Linked DNA regions of Homo sapiens: region 2 is linked to region 1. The links come from fine-mapping of genetic effects on gene expression. A gene starts in region 1. The other region holds a variant in brackets. All regions are shown on one strand. Distances are from middle to middle.

Region 1 (2,923 bases):
TATTGGGTAGTTACAAAAGTTATAATTAGATTCTTTTTTGTTCCTTTTTTGCTTAAGAATTTTATGAGTTGCCTGAATAGGAAAAATTAAATTAACAGTTTTTTTTTCCTTTTAACCTGTTTCTGCTTTTGTGTCAATGTCAACCGGGATGCGAATGGGGCATTGTGGGAGACAGGAGAGGACAATACTGGGGAGAATTAGCGCATTGGCGGTAGCCTTTCAATTCCAGCGCTGAAGCAACAGACTGAGAGGAGGTGAACCTTTACCTTCTCCCAGGCACAGACAAGGCGAGGTGAGGCAGAGATGGATTGCAGAACCGCATTAAGCAACCGCGGGGTGGAGGAGAGTGCAGGGTGTCTCCAAACCCTGGGAGGGCTATCTTCTCCTTTCAGAGCACATTTCTGCCCAGGTCTTTTTATTCTCAGTGCAGCTCGCTCCCTGGTGGCTTAAATTACGGTAAACGAAATAAGGTCCGTTAAAAACCACTTCTGAGAGGGGTGATTATTGGGGGTTTTGAAAGCACAGAGGTCTTATAGAGACCAAAAATATGTGCCTCGCTAAGATACAGAAAGGCTTGTAAGTGAATCTTCATAACTCTGGGTACGTGCATGTATATGCACATATACGTATGCATGTCTCGTTTCTATACCTTATATAAGTTTTCTGCCCAAAACTTTCCTCGTCCGTGCGTTCCCTACCACGGCGCATCTAATCTGTCTGCCCTATTTGTGGCTGCACAGCTCATTCTTGCAACCGGCTGGGGAGCTGTTGCTTCTGCCAACGCCGCCGTCAGCCAGAGCGCTGAAGAAAAGCTGAAGGCCAGCAGGCAACGAAAGAGTAAAGAAAACGCCCTCCTCCTGCCCATCTCCTCCACCACAGCCTCCCCAGTCCTCCCAGGTGACTCCCAAACAGTAGAAAGTTGGCTCAGAGATAGGGCAGAAGAACCGGGGGGCTGGGCGGCTGAGGCCGGGAGGTGGGAGAGGCGGGTCCTGCAGCCCCGAGAGCCCCCCGCGGCTGCAGCGGCAGCTGTCACCTCCTGGCCTCGCCCCACAGCACACCTGAGCCTCCTGGGCAGCCCCGAGCCCACAGCTCCCAGCAGAGGCGCTAACTGCCCTCCTCAAGCACAGGTCGCCGCGTCCCCAACTCCCTGTCCTCACCCCGGCCCGCCCGTCTCCTCCTCCGCCCTCTCCCGACTGCAGCGGGGGCAGCGCTTTGGCGCTCCCAAGGACTCCCCGCCACTCTCCCCACAAAGCAGCGGCGGTGGCGGCGGCTGCTGCTGGATCTTCACACTGCAGCCAGCAGCCCAGGACGCCCCCGGCCGGACGATGGGTACCCGCGCCTGAGCATCCCCCGGGCAGGCGCCAGGCGCGAAGGCAGGGGGCGGGAGGAAAGGGGCGGGGGAATTCCTGATTCCCTGGTGGACCCTGGAAGTTGTCCTTAAATAAATATATCGCTGGCCCGCGGTTGAGCAGCCACCTCGTCAGAGCAGCATGTGGACTGGCTCGCCGGGTCCCCTCCGTGCTCTGTGCTGTCGCCGCCGCCGCCTCTGTCAGAGCAGCAGCTGTCGGCAGCAGGAGCCCCGCACGGGGCGCGGAGCAGGGACGCGCTGCCACCGCCTCCCCCTGCGTCCTGCTGGCCGCGTCTTCTCGGGAGGTGGTAGTCGCTGTTGCCGCTGAGAAACCCGCCCGCTTTCCACGGCTGGTCGCCTGGTGAGGAGTTGAGACTCTGCGCCTCCGCCCGGACCCACATGGCTTGTTACCTGGTCATCAGTTCGAGACATCTCAGCAATGGGCACTACCGGGGCATTAAAGGAGTCTTCAGGGGACCCCTGTGCAAGAACGGATCTCCCTCTCCGGTAATGTGCGCGCGCACACACATACATACACAAACGTTCCAACTCAACACAAACAAAAAGATATTGAGAGATAGTATCCTGATACAATGAGTAGGTGGTGGACATCTAAAACGTATACCTTATCCATAGGTATGGAGATACATCGTGTCCGTTTATACAATTTATTGACAGACTGTGACACAGAGAGGGGTGTGTATTTACATGTGTATTTTCAATTCAGTCAGTAGGATCTATAGTGCTACGGATGTAAATACTTACTGAATGCAGTCAACTGCAGGGCTCAGAAGGTAGCTCCTCTGTGCTATGTCAACTTACGAATCTGCTGATTTGAGCAGTGTAGAAAGTTTGAGTGGCACGTTATAATGTGCTTTTGTAAAGTCATCAGTTGAGATTAGTTTAATAATGCTACTGTTACTTTGTGAGAAAAACTCAAAGATTTTCCCTCAAATCATTGGCAAAAGGAAAGTTATAGGTAGTGAAAACTTGATTATATCTAATGCTCAACTATGCACATTCTTTAAGGGGAAGTAAGAGAATTCTTTATGGAAATCTGAGTTGGATAATTTATTGTATAATATACAAATATATTAACATGCAATTAACGTGATTGCTTTTTAACTTAGTAAACTATTCAATTTAGTTACTATTCAGTTTATTCACATTCTTTTTATAAAATAATTTCATCCAGATTATATGAGTTAAATACATTATTAATTCATTTCTTGGTACATGCTATTATGTTTTAAGGCTCCAAATATGTTTCAAGAAAATGTGTGTGAATGTGTATGTGTGTGTAATTTATATATATATATAATAAATATATATATAATAAATATATATATAATAAATATATATATATATTAGTTTTGGACTACTAGTGACTAAGTATCCAAACTTAAAGACCAACTTTTGAGGTTTCATATAAAAAACAGTATTTAAGTCTGTATGATATCAAGAGGGAAAACTGAAATTGCCCAACTTTAATTTTTTTATGTTTGATATTTTCCATCATGGTTTAATGCTTCTTTAGCATGAATTATTCAAAACTGCAACATATTATAAAAGCCT
Region 2 (2,923 bases), 67 kb before region 1:
TCTTTTCTAAAAATACTAAAATAATGTCCAGGTAAGACAGAGCATGAGCCACAGAAAAGATATTTAAGAGTTTCACAACTTAAAGAAGCAGAATTTAAAACACAAAGCTTCTTTGGAGGAGAAAGAAACCATAAAGAAGGCACCTCTGGCCAATGGGATAGTGAATTAAATGAAAGAGGACATTTTTGAATCCCGCAAGACAAAAGGGGAACACAAAACTAGATAATTCACAATCCCATTGCCTATCATAAAAGCAAACAAACAAAACCATTGAAGTTTTCGAGTTTTGAAATACTGTGAGACAGGAGTATCATTAAATTAAAAATCTTGTAAAACACTGTAATACCACACATAAAAAAATAGACAAGAGAAGATTAACAGATTCAAAATGAGCTTTTGAAAGAAATCTGAAAACAAAATTCAACACATATTAACTGAGGAAATTTTCCCTCAGACTAATAACCATGAAGCAGAAGAAAACTCCAAGTCAAAACTATAAATGGAATGAGATAGTCTCACAAGTAAATGAAGATTTGAAAAAATAATCTAAATCAGAAATTCAAAATCTGAGGCTAGACATGGAAAAAACCAGTAAAAATTAAAAGAAAGTTGATTGAATTCAAAAAAGAAATGGAATTAAAAGACAAAATTAACATAGAAATGAAGAATGGATTTTAAGACGCCCATGAGAGAATTGATTTTAAAAAATTAAATAAGGAGCATTGAAGAAAAACAGAAAAATAATTAAGAGAATAAAAATGAGTGAAGAAGTGAATATGATACAAAGATAGAAAGAGAAGGAGTAATATGTGTATTATTGCAATCCCTGAACAAAACAAAGAGTGAAAAGCAAAACTTTAGGACATTAGACATTAGAAAATAACTATTAACAAAAACATTGGAAAATAATGTTTGAAATTATAATCACAGAAAACTTCCCAGACATTTAATAAAAAGTTTGAACCTAAAAATGGGAAGACCCCACTGGGTACTTGGGAAAATACAGTTTATGAGAAAATTTAGTTTATCATTAACCCAGACTGATAAACTTTAAGACATATTCTAATAACCATTAGGTTTCAGAGTTAAAAGAAAAATTCTCATGACCTCATGGCCTAAATAAACAAACATGTAACTTGCAATGACAGATATATTGGACTGGCATTGGTCTTTTGATAACCCAATTTTAAAGCAGTAGTATAAAAAAATGCTTAATGAGAAAAACTAGTGTAAATTAAGTATTTGATATTCAGCCAAACTGTCCCTCCAGAACCAAGCAAGACTACAGGAAAATAGATAATAACAAGCAAGAACTTAGGTAAATTTGTATGCAGTAACCTTCTTGGGTAATCTATTAGAATATGAACTTTATATTTTTAATAACATCATTTAAAAGAAGCCTGGGACCATTTTTGGAAAATTCTTTTTAATTCAAACATTCCAAGCATATTGAACTAATGGAAAATTTAATTTCCTGAGAAATGTATGCACCAATATTGGTGGATGTACTTGAGAAAAATAATTAACACTATATTCCCAATAGGGTTTTTTCTTTATTTGGGAAACATTAATAAATTAATAAATTTATTCTGGGGATTAAAGGGACTTGAAACCTTCAAAGGGAAATTCACCAAGAATCTTGAAAATTATTCAAGTATAAATGAGTATGGAGGGGAAAATTATGAGGCATAAAAC[A/G]CCTGTCCTCAACAGGTAAAACTAATCAGATAAGAAGTTTAAAAATTTACTATTTGGAAAACAATAACTTGGCATCAAATCAGTGTGGCTAAAGGATTAACCAAGGAGATCTCTATAAAACAAACAAAAACTCTTAAACAGAAATAGTACTTCTTGAAAAACAAAACTACAATATTCAGACCAAATTTGATTTGTACCTCCTCCAAGCTTGAAGGTTTGTAAAGAAAGCTGGTGCCTTATGTCATCCCAGATTTGCAACCAGGTAGCACCATGGAAACATGCTGACTTAGTAGTTAAAACTTCTTCTCCATCAAATGATGGCAGTAATCCCACACCCCGAAAATACAAAGACACAAGGAGCATTATCTTTATTAATTTGCAGATATTAATCTGCAAACCATTTGATTGTGAATCAGACTTCCCTGAGTTTCCAGAGCGCTTTCAGGTTCAATTCTGTGTTCAACTAGGGGCATTTTTCACTTTTTAGTATCTGGTCAAGTTCTAATCTTTGTTCTTTCCCCCTGGAAAAAAAAATGCAGTTTATTGAAAATTAGAGCCAATTATGTTATTGCATTTTTCAAAAATATATCTAAGAGACCTTGGAATTATTATAAATTTTTTTGTCCCTTAACCTGGAAACATTTTTGATTAGCCTATGAGGTGGTGATACTTTTCCTATAACTGAATACATTTCTGTTTGTTTATATATTTTAAAAATTCAATTATATCCCTGTCTATCACCACTTGTATATTTAGCATTGGTATTACTTCATTGAGGAGGAACAATTTATGTGTTCCCTGACTTGGTAGCTTGCCATACCTTAGGGAATCCTCTCAATATTTTTTTCCTATGTCTGTGTCTGAAGTTGAAAATCCCAAGCAATTTTATGTCCTTACATACTGCTAACTATCCACCTCTGCCCAATACAATGACATCTATATTGTCCCACATCTCTGGTTTTACTTCAAAGACACTTCTATAACCAGAGTATATGGGACAAGTGGCTTGAATAGGGCAGAGAACAATATTGAGTATCTAAGAGTCAGATGTTGTGATGGACATTTTAAACCTGCCATCTAATTTCATCTTATTATTTCATGGAAGAGAACATTGTGTCTCAAAGAGGTTAGGTAAGCTTTCCAAGACAAATTCAAGCTTATCTTAATCCAAAGCCAAGTAGTACAAGAACATGATATGAGAAAAAGCAAGAAAATTCTGAATGCTCTT

Alleles and levels. Alleles are on the strand shown, and positions count from the first base shown. SD is a standard deviation of normalised expression in the study named.
As copies of G replace A in region 2, the expression in pancreas of the gene that starts at base 1,471 in region 1 goes down (large effect, 0.88 SD a copy in GTEx).

Evidence for each region.
Region 2: its variant is fine-mapped to the expression of ZNF804B in pancreas (GTEx, PIP above 0.99).

Annotation. Positions count from the first base shown.
Region 1 is chr7:88,758,230-88,761,152 of GRCh38, forward strand. It overlaps ZNF804B (zinc finger protein 804B), which reads left to right and starts at 1,471. Exons shown (of 4, transcript NM_181646.5): 1 at 1,471-1,855. The coding sequence starts at 1,748. RefSeq lists an enhancer at 1,617-2,161.
Region 2 is chr7:88,691,571-88,694,493 of GRCh38, forward strand. All of the region lies in intron 1 of LOC107986816 (a long non-coding RNA gene), which reads left to right. Among named protein-coding and RNA genes, the nearest start is that of ZNF804B, 67 kb to the right of the region's middle. The variant A/G (reference allele first, on the strand shown) is at 1,696.